Linked DNA regions of Homo sapiens: region 2 is linked to region 1. A link means that fine-mapping ties the variant in region 1 to the expression of a gene that starts in the linked region. Tissue or cell type: esophagus mucosa. Region 1 holds a variant in brackets; the other region holds the start of a gene. All regions are shown on one strand. Distances are from middle to middle.

Region 1 (8,087 bases):
CATTTTGGTTTGGTCTGTTGGGCTTAGTGCAGGAACTCAGTCCAAAGTGATGGCCTCCTGTAAATGTTAACATTGTGAAACCTTTCTAATTCAGTCAGAGACTGGGTGCTCTTCCTCCAATATTTCCTCTGCCATTTGCATCTTCCTCAGGGGCAGATTAAACTTCACAGCTCATTACTTGCACAAGCCCCTTCTAAGGCTGACATCTAATTTTGTATTCATTATTTTATATTCTTTTCTTTAAAGAGTCCTTCCCCTCCCTGCAACTGTATAAGATTTAAGTTCCACTAAATCTAGATCCATCCCTCATCTACCTACAAATTAGTAATTATCATATTTTTCTGTGATTATATATTCACATGTTGTGGGTCCCCAGACCTAGCACAATGTCTGCTATGTGATAATTGCTTAATAAATATGCAGTACAAAGTTTCAGAATTTTCATCTATCAGTCATTCTTTGTCATTGGGCATTTATTATTAGTTGCAGTTAGAATTCAAAGTTGACAGGTCTACCAAAAAGAAATTGATTTGGTTTTCCAAGGAAGGGAGTTTCTCAGGATGTTTTGGCTGTTTTCAGTGCTTCCTCTCTCAATCCCAGTTTTGTTTCCTTTGCTCATGGCATGTGAATTGGCCCTTGCTTCACTGGGATAAGCAGATTGTCTCAAAGACACTTAACAATTGTCAGGGATCTTAGAGTCAGTGCCTACTTGGGGTCAACCCTCACAATATATCTTTTTAAAAAACCAAAAACCTTTTAATCAAAACAGTACATCTGGCTCTTGGTATCCACGGATCCAACCAACCACAGATCAAAAATATTCTGGAAAAAACTAATAAAAAATAACAATACAACAACAAAAAATAATGCAAATCAAAATACAATATAACGACTCTATAGCATTTAGATTGATTTGTATTAGGTCTTATAAGTAATCAAGAGATGATTTAAAGTGTATGGGGAGGATGTGTGCTGGTTACTTGTAAACATTACATCATTTTATGTAAGAGACTTGAGCATCCACGGATTTTGCTACTGGGGCAGGGGAGGTTTCTGGAACCAATCCCCCCATACCAAGGGAGGACTGTGTATGTTTACTGCAGAAAAATAGAGAAAGCAAGGGCAGAGAAGAGAATAAATACCATAAATCCACCACCCATAGGATAATTTGATGTCTGTCCTTTACATACATACTTACATACTTTTTGTTTTCTGACCAATGGTTATACACTTAAGTTTTTAAAAAGGAATCATAGTATACATAGAATATTGTGAACATCTTTCTGTATGCAATGCATTAAAATAATGAAACCATTTTTAAAAGCTTTTGACACATTTATATATTTATAATATGACAGAAAGTACTAAGTATCTTGTTCACACAGGACTAATATTATGTATATCTAAGTAATATAAATATGTAATGTAGGTAATGTAAATGTGTAATGTATCACGTAGATGTAATATATGTACATAGATGCAATTATAAGCAACCTTTTATTTATAATGAGGTGACGCCACTTCTTTACACAACTCTAGAGGGCGCCATTCGTAGATTCTGGTGCCACAGCGGCCCAATAAAAGTTGAGGAAAAAAGATCGAGATGGGCTCGTTGGCTCTTTCAGTTAGATAATTTTACAAGTAAGCCTTTTGAAGTTTAGAAAGGTTCAGTTAGACCTGGTTATTAAAAACGTTTAATTTCCTCCAGTGAAAAACGGGCGGGAAGCAACGAACTTTGAAAACAACTAAGGAAGAAAACGCGTCTGCTTACAGTTTGCCAACTACGGGACACCGTGGAAATCCCATCTCGGGATTGGCGCGGTGCCTGCTGGGAGTTGTAGTGCGCCCCTCGCCTTCCGGGCGGCGGTCTGAGGCCCGCGAGACTCCGTTTCCCGGCAGGCCTCGCGTCAAGACGGCCGGCGGGACGGGAGCTGCGGCGCTGGCTACGAGAGTGACCCAGTCAGCGTTGGTTCCCGTCTTGGCCATGGCCTCGTTCGTGACAGAAGTTTTGGCACACTCCGGGAGGCTGGAAAAGGAGGATCTGGGGACCCGGATCAGCCGCCTGACCCGGCGGGTGGAGGAGATCAAGGTGAGAGCGGGGCAGCTGTCTGCTGACTGGAAGGGGACTCCGGGTCCTTGTGTGAAGGGACTGGAGAGAGGAGTCAGGGGCTAAGGGCAGACAGAGTGGGGACCAGCAGAGTGGGGCCTGTTGGGGAGATCTAGTTGTGGGGGCTGAATGAGGAGTGGAGGGGCCCAGAATGTGTGGATTGAGGAGGGATCTTGGAGGGGAGCCCACACAGGGGTTGGGAACTGAGGAGGCGAGGAGACCTGGGACTGTGGGGACGAACAGGCGGTGGCTGGAGAGCACTGGAGAGTGGAGTTATGTTGGGGAGGGGTGTGCCGCGGGAAGAGGGAGACTGAAGAGACCAGCAGAGCGGGAGGAGCAACTGGAAGCTCCGAGGAAGCTAGGGAGCGAGCGCAGGAGAGGAATAGAAAAGACAGGATCCCCCTTCCCCTTCTTCCATCGATGAGTGTTTATTTCCTCCACCCACTCCTTGATTTGTTGATGAATAAAATAGCCTGGAGGATTGCACCTTTCTCCTCCCCGACATTAAAAAAAAAACAAACCCAAACCCTCAGTATGTTTTTATTTTTATGTATCTATCTATCTTTTGAGATGGAGTCTTGCTCTGTCGCCCAGGCTGGAGTGATCTCGGCTCACCGCGACCTCTGCCTCCCGGGTTCAAGCGATTCTCCTGCCTCAGCCTCCCGAGTAGCTGAGATTACAGGCGCGTGCCACCACGCCTGGCTAATTTTTTTTTTTTTTTTTTTGTATTTTTAGTACAGACGGAGTTTCACCATGTTGGCCAGACTGGTCTCGAACTCTTGACCTCAGGTGATCCACCCGCCTCGGCCTCCCAAAGTGCTGGGATTACAGGTGTAAGCCACCGTCTCCGGCCTCTTAATGTGGTTTTAAAACTTCATCTACAAGCACATGAAGCTGTGCTGAGTGTCATTGGTACCTACGTAAACGTTGCTGCCTTGAGATTGATACAAAAACTGGAAGCACGTAGCCACACACAGTTTTGCTTTGTACTGATATTGTTACCTTGCCAGTATTTGTCCACATCTTCAGTTGCTTTCATTTAAAATTTTGTGTATCTGAGTCAAGTAGGGTTTCGAGGGAGCAAGTTTGCCACACACCATAAGGGCACAGGTATAACCCTTCCTAACAGCTCTTGATTTTACAAAAGTAGTTTCCTGAATTTTAAGTAGTCATATCCCTGACATCTCTTCTTTAATATGGCTTTCGGATTTTTCACCACTGTTTAATGTGATGGAAAGAGGACAGGTTTTTAAGTTACTCTAGCATGGCAAGCGACCCTAGCTCCTGCGTGTTCTGGACCCAACATGCCTTTCTTTGCTTTCACTAGTTTCCTTTACCAACTTGAATCTTCAGCCAATTGAGAATTACTTTCTCTGCTCTCCCTCCCTTTTTTAATCCCATATTTTGCTTATGTTGCCATTTTTCCATCTTTACCTGTAGTATTTTTCAAACCCATTTTTCAAGTTCCATTTCAAATGTCTCCTGCATAAAAAAAAATCTTTATCTTCCCTCAGGGAGAGGGGATCTCTTTCTCATTTGTGCTCCTGGAAGGCTTTGTAACTTTGTTGCTGTATTACATTTCAGTCCTGTATTCTTGTTGCTCAAGTATATAGTATCTTTACTACGTAGGAATTTGAGGGCAAGCATAATTTGTTCTTTTTTTTAATTCATGTATTTATTCCTCTGTCAAAATAATAATTTAACAAAATTAGCCAGGCGTGGTGGTGTGCGCCTGTAATCCCCAGCTACTCTGGAGGCTGAGGCAGGAGGATCGTTTGAACCTGGGAGGTTGAGGTTGCAGTGAGCCGAGATTGTGCCACTGCGTTCCAGCCCGAGGGACGGAGTGAGACTCCATCTCAAAAAGAAAAACAAAATCAATTTAAAGCCATCACATTTTTAAAAGATAAAGGAGAATTTGTGGCACAGCTGCATTAACAAAACAAGACACCAGTCTAAAGTGCAACACTAAACAGGTGTTCTCTCTTCCCATGGTGGAATACATACACACAATTACACGTAAGATTTCACTGAAGATATGGAATGAGGCAAATAACCCTTTGAAATGAACCACCCAAGGAATAGAGACAGGCTAAAAATAATTTCTTTTAAGATTTTACTGTAAGATGGACCCCCTGCCCCCACTCCAGCCCAGGTAAGTACTAACTCAAACCCCTCATTTTATGTGCATGGCCTTGGCTTCTGTCTTCTTTCCTCAGCCACATCCAAATCCAGAAAGGCTTCTGTACCCTATGCTCAAAACGCAACCTCAGCCAGGTGCGGTGGCTCACGCCTGTAATCCCAGCACTTTGGGAGGCCAAGGTGGGTAGATAACCTGAGGTCAGGAGCTCCAGATCAGCCTGGCCAACATGGTGAAACTTCTTCTCTACTAAAAATACACAAATTAGCCGGGTGTGGTGGTGGGCGCCTGTAATCCCAGCTACTCTGGAGGCTGAGGCAGAAGAATCGCTTGAACCCGGGAAGTGGAAATTGCAGTGAGGTGAGATTGCTCCACCACTGCAGTCCAG[C/A]CTGGGCGACGGAGTGAGACTCTGTCTCAAAAAAAAAAAAAAAAAAAATAGCATCCTCAAGTCCCCGACTTGAGGAAGTACAGACTGACGTTAATGAGCCTGTGTGCAACGTGCAACCTTCATCTAGAACCTGCAGGGAAATCAGGAGCACAAACACAGAGTGCAGCATCATTTCTTTTTTTTTTTTTTTCTTTTTTGAGGTAGAGTCTCTCTCGCCCTGTCGCCCAGGCTGGAATGCAGTGGCGAGTTATTGGCTCACTGCAATCTCTGCCTTCTAGGTTCAAGTGATTCTCCTGCCTCAGCCTCCCAAGTAGCTGGGACTACAGGCGCCCACCACCGCGACCGGCTAATTTATTTGTATTTTAGTAGAGATGGGTTTTCACCATGTTGGCCAGGCTATTCTTGAACTCCTGACCTCAAGTGATCCACCTGCCTTGGCTTCCCAAAGTGCTGGGATTACAGGTGTGAGCCACAATGCCGGGATGCATCATTTCTTTAAACAATGGCTTTAACTGTTGAATGAGCTCTGACAAGCCATATGCATCTCATAAGCAAGCCAAAATACTGTCTTCATATCTGTTTTTCTTGCAAACATGTATCATCCAAGTAAAAAAAAAAAAAAAAAAATTAGGCTGGGCACTATGGCTCACACCTATAATCCCAGCAGTTTTGGAGGCCGAGGTGGGCGGATCACCTGAGGTCAGGAGTTCGAGACCAGCCTGGCCAACATGGTGAAACCCTGTCTCTACTAAAAATACAAAAATTAGCTGGGCGTGGTGGCGCATGCCTGTAGTCCCAGCTACTTGGGAGGCTGAGGCAGGAGAATCGCTTGTACCCGGGAGGTGGAGGTTGCAGTGAGCCAAGATTCCACCACCGCATTCCAGCCTGGATGACAGAGCGAGACTCCATCTCAAAAAAAAAAAAAAAAAAAAAAAGAAATTTAACAGAAACAATGAAAAAGAAAATTCAAAAGGTTTATGCCAAAAAGCAAACCAGTCCTCATTTGTTTTGGTGCTAACTCATTTGTTTTGGGGCTGTGAAGCCATGTAGAGGGTGATCAGGCAGTATCCCACCCACAGTCAGCACCATGGTGGTCCAGTATAGCATTTGGTCAGGGAAGCCTCATTTCAGGTGGATGGGCACATCATCAGCTTTCTGGAGAAACTTCTGCAGCTCTGGAACTTTGTTTTTCCTAGCAAAATTATATGCAGTGGAATCAGAAGTCAGCTTAGTTGGTATGGCAAATATGATAGGTGGTGCTTCTGTGGAAACCACAGGCATTAATCCTTATGGGCTATAGGCCTCTGAAGTCCATGCTCCCACCAACTCAAACGTGAAGCCACTAAATTTGTAGTACATGATGCCTGGAGTCCGGCTTCCCGCATCTACTGCCTGCACGACCACCCCAGAGAAGGACCCATAATTTATCCTTGTATCTTTCAAGGTATTAAATAATTCAATACACAGTATTCAGTACTTTGTTTAAGTTACTTTGTATTAAAGGAGATGATGAAAGTCAAATCAATGTAGGGTTTTAAGATCAGGCCATAAAATATTATAGGCAAGAAAATAGAAATTGATTGAGATATACAGATTATGGATTTAATTTATCCATTTATTTTCTATTAGATTTATGATTAAAATTGGTGACCACAGTCTGATATAGTTCAATATGAGAACTTCTGGCTCCACCTTTTCTCTTTTCCAGCATTTGTACAAGTCTTGGGCGCCGTTGGGGTTTGGTGATCATTGTCTTCCTTTTTTTTTTTTAATTTTTTAATCGACCAGTAATAGTTGTATATACTCTTGGAGTACATAGTGATGTTTGATATTGTTGTCTTCTTTCACCCTAATAATGTTATGAGACCCCTCATGGTGGGAGAAATGTGTTTTTGAAATAAACTCATTGGCTTGGAGGGAAAGTGAATGGGTATAGGCAATTGGCAAGAAGGTTCTAACATGGAAAATGCCTTGTGGAAGATGAATATATTCTTATTAGAGTTCTCTACTCATTTCACTGTCTTTTAATATAATTCTGTTTTATATTTTAGGGTGAGGTGTGCAATATGATTAGCAAGAAGTACAGTGAATTCCTGCCTAGCATGCAGAGCGCGCAGGGCCTGATTACCCAGGTGGATAAGCTATCTGAAGACATTGACCTGCTGAAATCCAGGATAGAGAGTGAGGTAAGGATAATTTGTTATATTGGGTAGGTTTGTAGGGAGGTGGTTCAGCTTCCTGATTGCTAAGACAGCTTAATTGTGTACAACTTTTTAAACCCTCACTTTTCTGATTGGTAAATGGAGATTGAACTAAATGATTGTAGGGTGACTTCAATTCTGAAATAGAAGTATTTCCAAAAGTGCAATTTAAATAACTTATTTTTTATGGAAGAAAATTTGACCAGGCCCGGTGCATCATGCCTGTAATCCCAGCACTTTGTGGTGGCCAAAGTGAGTGGATCAATCTGTTACTTTGCACCTCTGGCACAGTTCAAAAAATATCCCCAGAGTGCATTTGTAATTAGTTGATTGATTAGGGAGTCAATATCAATAGTGTAACATTAGACTGTGCTATTAGAAATGAAGTGTCTGGAACAAGACAGTAATTGGCTCTCTGTACCTTTTACTGGCCACACCCTGGCTGTTGAAATTTATTTAGTTTTGGTTGTTGTTATTTTGAAAGATGGCTGGTCTGGATGAGAAGGTTTAGCCCTGAACACTGTACCATTTGAAGAACTGTGAAATAAACTGAGGATGTTTAGCCTTGGGAAGAAACATTTTCAATATTTGAAGCTCTGTCATATGGGAGAAATATTCAAATTTATGGTTCATAATAGAGAATTTTTTCAATAGGTGTATGTTAGAAGTTTATTCAGGCATTTGGTATATTTATTCTGCACTTAAAAGGTGCCAGGCAGTGTAATAGTTGCTGAATAAGAATGTTTTTTATTTCAAGGTGTGAATCTCGTGCCTGGTAATAGTGTGCCACAGCAATAAATAGGAGTAATACAGTTAGAGAGAGGAGATATAGCTAAGGATGGCTTCCTATAGGAAATGGCATCCAAACCAAGACGGGAAGTGATAGGCAACAGGGGAAGGAAGAGTGTTGTAAGTAGCCATAAGTTTTAGGTAGGCAGAGGCATGGAGGTAATAGAGAGATGTCACTGTTGGGGAGCTACAAGTATTCCATAAGACAAATGTGGGATTTTGGTGGGAAGGGACATAAGATGAAATTAGAAAGGTAAGCAAGGGCCTTGCATATCAGGTTAGTAGTAACATGATAAAGAGTGTGGACGTTATCTTGATGGCCCTGTGGAACCCATAGAGGTTTTTAAGCAAGAGAGTGACATCAGATTTGAATTTCCGGAATCCTATTCTGCTTGCAGTTTGAAGAAAGAACTTGAGGGAAATGAGTCCAGGATATGAGAAGGCAGTTAAAATGTTCAGAGGCAG
Region 2 (8,100 bases), 100 kb before region 1:
GAACCTGGGTGGCAGAGGTTGCAGTGAGCCAAGATTGCACCACTGCACTCCAGCCTGGGTAACAGAGCGAGAGCAAGACTCCGCCTCAAAAAAAAAAAAAAAGAAAGAAAGAAAAGAAAAACCCATTTTCTGGGGAGAAATTCACGCCAGCTGTAGAAATTTGCGTAAGTAGCAAGGATCCTAATGTTAATCACCAAGACCACGGGAAAAATGTCTCCAGGCCATGTCAGAGACCTTCACAACAGCCCCTCCCATCGCAAGTCCGGAGGCCCAGGAGGAAAAAGTGGTTTTGTGGGCCAGGCCCAGAGTCCCCATGCAGTGTGCAGCCTAGGGACTTGGTGCCCTGTGTCCCAGATGCTCCAGACATAGCTGAAAGGGACCAATGCACACCTCGGGCTGTGGCTTCAAAGGATGGAAGCCCCAAGACTTGGCAGCTTCCAAGTTGAATCTGCAGGTGCACAGAAGTCAAGAATTTAGGTTTGGGAACCTCTGTCTAGATTTCAGAAGATGTATGGAAACACCTGGATGCCCAGGCAAAAGTTGGCCGCTGGGGTGGGGCCCTCATGGAGAACCTCTACTAGGGCAGCATGGAAGGGAAATGTGGGGTCGGAGCCCCCACACAGAGTCCCTAATGGGGCACTGCCTAGTGGAGCTGTGAGAAGAGGGTCACTGTCCTCCAGAGCCCAGAATGGTGGGTCCACCGACAGCTTGCACTGTGTGCCCGGAAAAGCTGCAGACACTCAATGCCAGCCCATGAAAGCAGCCAAGAGGGAGACTGTACCCTGCAAAGCCACAGGGGCAGAGCTGCCCAAGACCATGGGAACCCACCTTTTGCATCAGTGTGACCTGGATGTGAGAGCTGGAGTCAAAGGAGATCATTTTAGAGCTTTACAATTTGACGGCCTCGCTGGATTTTGGACTTCCTTGGGCCTTGTAACCCCTTTGTTTTGGCCAATTTCTCCCATTGGGAACTGCTGTATTTACCCAATACCTGTACCCCCATTGTATCTAGGAAATAACTAGCTTGCTTTTAATTTTACAGGTTCATAGGCAGAAAGGACTTGCCTTGTCTCAGATGAGACTTTGGACTGCGGACTTTTGGGTTAATGCTGAAATGAGTTAAGACTTTGAGAGGCTGTTGGGAAGGCATGATTGCTTTTGAAATGTGAGGACCTGAGATTTTGAGGGGCCAGAGGTGGAATGATATGGTTTGGCCGTGCCCTCACCCAAATCTCAACTTGAATTTTATCTCCCAGAATTCCCACGTGTTTGTGGGTGGTACGCATGGGGAGGTAATTGAATCATGAGGGCCGGTCTTCCCGTGCTATTTTTGTGATTGTGAATAAGTCTCATGAGATCCAACGGGTTTATCAGAGGTTTCCACTTTTGCTTCTTCCTCATTTTCTCTTGCTGCTGCCATGTAAGAAGAGCCTTTCACCTCCCGCCATGATTCTGAGGCCTCCCCAGCCATGTGGAACTGTGAGTCCAATTAAACCTCTTTCTTCTGTAAATTGCCCAGTCTTGGATATGTCTTCATCAGCAGCGTGAAAACGGACTAATACTTTTTTTTTTTTTTTGGTATTTCCTGTATAGATGGAGTTTTGCCACATTGCCCAGGGTAGTCTCCAACTCCTGAGCTCATGTGATCTGCCCACCTCAGCCTCCTAAACTGCTGGGATTACAGGCATGAACCTGTGATTGGCCTAGGTCTGCTGGTCTTTTAAGAAAATTTTAATGAAGGTTGGGCACGGTGGCTCATGCCTGTAATCCCAGCACTTTGGGAGGCAGAGGCAGGTGGATCACAAGGTTAAGAGTTGGAGACCAGCCTGGCCAACATGGTGAAACCCTGTCTCTACTAAAAATTAGCCAGGCGTGGTGGTGCATGCCTTAGTCCCAGGGGAGTCTGAGGCGCCTGTAGTCCCTCGGGAGTCTGAGGCAGGAGAGCTGCTTGAACCCGGGAGGCAGAGGTTTCAGGGAGCTGAGATCACACCACTGCACTCCAGCCTGGGCGACAGAACGATACCCCGTCTCAAAAAAAAAAAAAAAAAAAGAAAATTTTAATGAATAAGGGTAATATGGTTTGGCTCTGGGTCCCCACCCAAATCTCATGTCGAATTGTATTCCCACTTGCCAGGGGAGGGACCTGGTGGGACATGATTAGATTATGGGGTGGATTTCCCCCATGCATTTCTCATGATAGTGAGTTCTTATGAGATCTTTGTGTGTGTGTGTGTGCGGGGGGTCGGGGGGGACACTTCTTTTGTTCTATCTCTCCTACTCTGCCATGGTGAGACATGCCTGCTTCCCCTTTGCCTTCCACCACGATTGTACGTTTCCTGAGGCCTCCCAGTCTTGCTTCCTGTTATGCCCCTGAGTCAAACCTCTTTTCTTCATAACTTACCCAGGCTCAGGTAATTCTTTATGGCAGTGTGAGAACAGACTAATACAAAGGATTATAGGTTTTGACAGCACTTACACACAATAAACATGCAATTTCCTAAAATGAATGTGTAAAGACAAATAAGGGTTGCTCCAGAGACATGGTAAATAAAGCATTCTAGCAGTGTAGAAATAGGCAATGCTGTAAATAAGCTAGACTCAGAAATCAATGTGGGCTGGGCGTGGTGACTCATGTCTGTAATCCCCAAATTTTGGGAGGCCAAGGCAGGAGGATTGCTTGAGACCAGAAGTTTGAGACCATCCTGGGCAACACAGTGAGATCCCATCTCCATAAAAAAGACACAAAAATTAGTTGGGCATGGCACATGCATGAAGTCCCTGCTGCTTCAGAGGCTGAGGCAGTTGGACTGCTTGAGCCCAGGAATTCAAGGCTGCAGTGAGCCATGATCTCACTACTGTATTTCAGTCTGGGTGACAGAGTGAGACCCTGTCTCAAAAAAAAAAAAAAAAAAAAAGAAAACCAGCATCAACCTGAAATCAACCTGTTCTACAGTGACACCCAGGTTGAGGCCATAAACACAGTCACTCATGAGGAAAGGAAAAATGGCAGAGCCACATACATAAAATGTCCTACTACTCGCAGACACAAACACAGTCAGCCTGTTGAATGTGGAAGATTCCAAGTTAGTATCACCGCAGCCATGCCAATCTGCCAGTTAATCTGCCAGGGGAAGCGGATCCCTGTATCTCCAGGTGGTGGAAGTTGCAGGAGTCCTAGTTCAGGCCTCAGAGAGTAATCTGGCCTCTCCTGGGAGCTGCACCTGACCTGTACCTGTTTCCTTTTGTCAAAAACTGCGCCCGCATGCAGACTAGGGAGGCCTGCAGGTGAAACATAACAATCCCAGCGACAACAATGCCAGGAGTATAGGAAAGGCCACCGTCCATGTTAAATTCACACTTAAAAGTGTAGCTTGAGAGTCAGACCAGACCAGGGCAAGGGTGTAGGTGCTACTCTTAAAAGACGCGCTTCCACACTCAGCCTCTACGCAGATTTGGGACACCCAGCAGCCTGTCAAGTGGGTTTGCCATCATAACACATTTGTATCTTAAATGTGAAACATGGTTCAGTAATCACAATTCCCACACAGTTGTTGAAAATACAATTCAGGCCTGGCGCGGTGGCTCACGCCTATAATCCCAGCATTATGGAAGGCCGAGACGGGCGGATCACCTGAGGTCAGGAATTCGAGGCCAGCCTGGGCAACATGGTGAAACCCTGGGTGTGGTACAGCGTGCCTGTAATCCCAGCTACTCAGGAGAATCGCTTGAACCCAGGAGGCGGAAGTTGCAGTGAGCCGAGACCGTGCGGCTGCACTCCAGCTTGAGGGGACAGAGTGAGACTCCGTCTCAAAAAAAAAGAAAAAAAAAAAAACAAACCGAAACCAACCAAACAAAAAACAATTCAATAGGAGCACCTGGTCTTTTAACATGAAATCGTAAATATCTGGCTCAAACGTAACAAAGTAACACAAAATTTTAGTTTGAACTTCTGAAAATCGAAAATGGAAAAACTGCAATTTTCCTTATCATGCCCAGGTTAAGAGCATCAGGGTTAAGGGCACCAAGCGGGACACCCATGAACGGAGGCTTTGGTCCGTTTGGTTAGCTTTAGACAAGCGACTGCATTCATCCTCCTTCTCTCCTTAAAGATGGTGAACACTTCTTCATGTCATTGGAGTTGGAAATGGCTACAAAGCCTGATGGGAAATCCTTTATTCCACGGTCATTCGGCAGTTTCCCACGGCGGGGGAACAGTTTTAACTCGCCCGTGGGGAGGGTGGAGCCGGAGGTCAGTCCTACAAATGAGGTTTTGAGGGCAGAGAGCGGAGAAGACTCAGGAACGCGGCTCCCAGGATTCGCAAACCCAGTTCCCGGACACTGGCAGCGCGGCCCGCAGCCTCCACCGGCTGTGAAGCTGACCAACAGCGACAGGCGGGGCCGGGATCACGTGACCGACGTCTGGTCAGCCGGGCGTGCGCGGGAGCACGCAGAACTGTTCGGCCCCGGGCCGCGCGCCTTGCGTGCGCGCGCATGCCGGGGGCGGGGCATGTGGGCCAAGCCTCCGGCGCGCGCTGCGGGCGGGGGCGGGACGGAGCGGGGTGGAGGGCGGGGGCGGGGCCTAGTCCTGAGAGGCTGGGCCGGCGGCGGCTGCGGCGGGAGACCGGTGACCCGCGGCTGGGCGCCTCGGCCATGACTGCGGAGCTGCAGCAGGACGACGCGGCCGGCGCGGCAGACGGCCACGGCTCGGTGGGCTCCGCGGCGGCGAGCGGGAGCTGGGGGCGGGCTCCAGGCCCTGAGGGGAGCGTGCGGGGCCTGCAGGGCTGCGGGTTGCGGGCTGCGGAGGGCGCCCCGGCCGGGCGGGACAGGGGGTGCGCCCGCCAGCGTGGGTGAGAAGGCCAAGGGCTCTGCGGGGCTCGGGCCGCGGAGATTGAGGACTGCATCTTCGCGTCCGTGGGCGAGCTGAAGTTGTAGGGGGATTTCCAGATTTTGGAAAACCAAATATAAAGGGCTGGACGTGGGGTTCTCCGCCGCAGGGATCAGTAAGGTGAGCCCTCCTGGGCCCCGTCCGGGGTGAGAAACTTCCGAAAGCGGCAGCGTTGGTTGGTTTTGTTTTGCTTTGACTTTTAAATCAGTTTTATGGCGGCGTTTTTAAAAGGTTAAAGCAGACCGAAGTTATCTCACTTAAAGTCCGGAATTAATCACCGTCTTCTATAAGACCAGGGGTCCCAGTTACCACCACTTCCCTCCCTCCCAACCCGGCTTTAAAAACAAAACAGCGCAGCCTCCCCAATTATTGCCTTCATCGCTCTAGATTTTTAAGGAGGGGGAGGAGCTGCGTGATGAATAGAAAGTCTACTGATGATGATCTCCTGTTCCCAATGTCTAAGAAGATTGAAATCAATATAAGGACTTCTGATCTAAGAATCTGGTGAGAGTGAAAGAACCCTGGTTTGAGAGAAAAGCTAATGTCTGTATGAAGAAACTTGGGAAGAGGGCAATTTGAGCATGTCTTCTAGTGTTACTTCGGAATGTTATAACTTAACACCACCTCCTCACCCCTCAAGTACTGCACTTTTTCAAGAGAAAACGGGAAATCTGTGCCAGTTGTTCAAATACGAGTTTGGAGATGAGAAACTATATTTGTCGTACAAAGCTGGCAGACAGATACCCTCAGGTGAGAATCCTTTTATACCTTTTTACTCTTTTGTCTGGAAGGCCAGTAGTATTTAGCATGGAGACACTTTTTTTTTTTTTTTTTTTTTTTTTTCGACAGAGTCTCCCTCTGTTGCCTAGGCTGGAGTGCTGTGGCGCGATGTCGGCTCACTGCATCCTCCGCCTCACCCTCCTGAGTAGCTGGTATTACAGGTGCTTGCCACCGGCCCGGCTAATTTTTGTATTTTTAGTAGAGTCGGGGTTTCACCATATTGGTCAGGCTGGTCTCAAACTCCCGACTTAAGGTGATTCGCCCGCCTCGGCCTTCCAGAGTGCTGGGATTACAGGCGTGAGCCACCGCGCCCAGTCTGGACGCACTTTTTTTTTTTTTTTTTTTCCAGACGGAGTCTCACTTTGTCGCCCAGGCTGGGGTGCAGTGGCGCGATCTCGGCTCACTGCAACTTCCGTCTCCCGGGTTCAAGCGATTCTCCTGCCTCAGCCTCCCGAGTAGCTGGGACTACAGGCGCGTGCCACCACGCCCAGCTAATTTTTGTATTTTTAGTAGAGATGGGATTTCACTGTGTTGGCCAGGATGGTCTCGGTCTCTTGACCTCATGATCCGCCCGCCTCGGCCTCCCAAAGTGCTGGGATTACAGGCGTGAACCAGGGCGCCCAGCCTGGATGCGCTTTTTAAAACTCATGTAGAAAAAGATACTTCCAGGTCCTGGGCTCCGAAACGAAAGTATCATGCACTGACTTCTAATGGAAATATTGTTAGATGTTCACAAGTGCCTATTGAAATGTGTCAAGATTTTTCTCTGGCTTCAGAGGTCAGTTCTATTTGTTTTTAGCACAGTGATTTAAAAACATGGGAAAATTTTAGTTTGGAGACTATCATATTGATTTAGAGAAGAGACTATTTTAAGGGAGAGAGAAGTCATATTTAAATTTGTCGTGGCTCAGTCATTTAAGACCATGTGCCTATTAATCAGTGGCATCTTCATTTACCTCTGCCGCAGTTTGAGTAGTGACCCTATTTCAGCATTCTCCGTTTGAGACTGTGTGTGAGCTACTTGATGAGCATTTGTATGTAAGTCATAGCTATTTTGGGAAGGCTTGGAACTCCAGTGGCTGTGGCTGGCTGGAGTACTCCGATTCCTGGCCACCTGCAGAGTGATGACATTTACTGTTCTTCCCAGTGATTTGCCCTATACGGAAAGCTGATAAGCTTGGAATGCTTGATAATGTTTGCCCCTTTTATTTTTGCTAATAAAATGCTTCAAGTTACCAGGATAGGTTGAAGGAACTTACAGGAAAAGTACCTTTTGATCTTACAGGAAAGATTTTAATAACTTCTTCCTCATCTTGGTAAGTTTCATGTTAGAATGGATTCTTTTATTTTGAACTCTCTGAGGCATTCTACCTTTCCCTTAAAGGATATTTCATTGTTCTAGTTGAGGAGAGCTATCCTTCCCTGACACTCAGAAGCTATTTAAAGCCTAGACTGCTTCCCTTCCCTTATTGGTCAGTTGTACACAGGACAGACAAAACCCTTTATGGCCTCCCAAGAATTTTAGTGCGAGAAATATGTAGTACTCTTGAAATATGCTATCAGTATGGACTCGAATCTGAGAGTAGACACTTTATGATTTCACTAAATCCTCTAGACTGCAAACTGGTATTCGAATATCTAAAGAGGTTACATAGTGACAGATTCCTGTATTTTAATCAATTCTTGACTTCGATAGCAGCAAAATTTACTGTTATTACAGGAGAAACAACTTGAAGTCAGTTTGGTTCTTATAAACCTGTCATTCTTGGCAGCTGTACTGAGGGTTCACATCACACATTCTTTATGTCAGCTGAAGCCTTATAAAAACCTGCCAGTTTCAGTGAAAATTTAATGCCCTTTTTGCTTTCTCTTGATTTATTGACCTTTCGTTTCCTTTTGTCTCATTAACTGATTTTTAAAACATCAGTAAGTCAGTGATTGGTTCCACAACTCTCATGCCCCTCTGCCCCCAAATGCAAACAGTATTTTTTTTTTTTTTTGAGACGGAGTCTCGCTCTGTTGCCCAGGCTGAAGTGCAGTGGCGCGATCTCTGCTCACTGCAAGCTCCGCCCCCCGGGTTCATGCCATTCTCCAGCCTCAGCCTCCTGAGTAGCTGGGACTACAGGTGCCCACCACCACGCCCGGCTGATGTTTCTGTATTTTTAGTAGAGACGGGGTTTCACAGTGTTCGCCAGGATGGTCTCGATCTCCTGACCTCATGATCCGCCCGCCTCGGTCTGCAAACAGTATTTTTAAGACTTACTGGCAAATAGCATCTTACCAGGCGAGATCTCTCCATGTGTTCTGTTTCATCAAAGAAATTAAATCAATAGTAAAATGAAGCAAGTACTTAACAAGGAAAATAATGCTGGTAATAGTAATAGCTAATGCTAATTGAGCATGCACTATGTGCCAGACTCGGTGCTCAGAACTTA

Direction of the effects. Positions count from the first base shown, and alleles are read on the strand shown. Sizes are in standard deviations (SD) of each study's normalised expression.
For the expression in esophagus mucosa of the gene that starts at base 4,580 in region 2, A is the high allele of the variant in region 1 and C is the other (small effect, 0.15 SD a copy in GTEx).

The links. PIP is the estimated chance that this variant, and not a neighbour inherited with it, causes the effect.
Region 2: USP28 starts here. The variant in region 1 is fine-mapped to the expression of USP28 in esophagus mucosa (GTEx, PIP above 0.99).

The regions. Positions count from the first base shown.
Region 1 is chr11:113,767,564-113,775,650 of GRCh38, reverse strand. ZW10 (zw10 kinetochore protein) reads left to right here and starts at 1,959. Exons shown (of 16, transcript NM_004724.4): 1 at 1,959-2,089; 2 at 6,684-6,818. The coding sequence starts at 1,985. It also overlaps the pseudogene LOC100288385. RefSeq lists enhancers at 1,769-1,828, 1,959-2,228. The variant C/A (reference allele first, on the strand shown) is at 4,633.
Region 2 is chr11:113,872,052-113,880,151 of GRCh38, reverse strand. USP28 (ubiquitin specific peptidase 28) reads left to right here and starts at 4,580. Exons shown (of 26, transcript NM_001346252.4): 1 at 4,580-4,707. The coding sequence starts at 4,651. RefSeq lists enhancers at 3,360-4,021, 4,072-4,321, 4,311-4,605, 6,192-6,692 and silencers at 4,342-4,501, 4,522-4,881.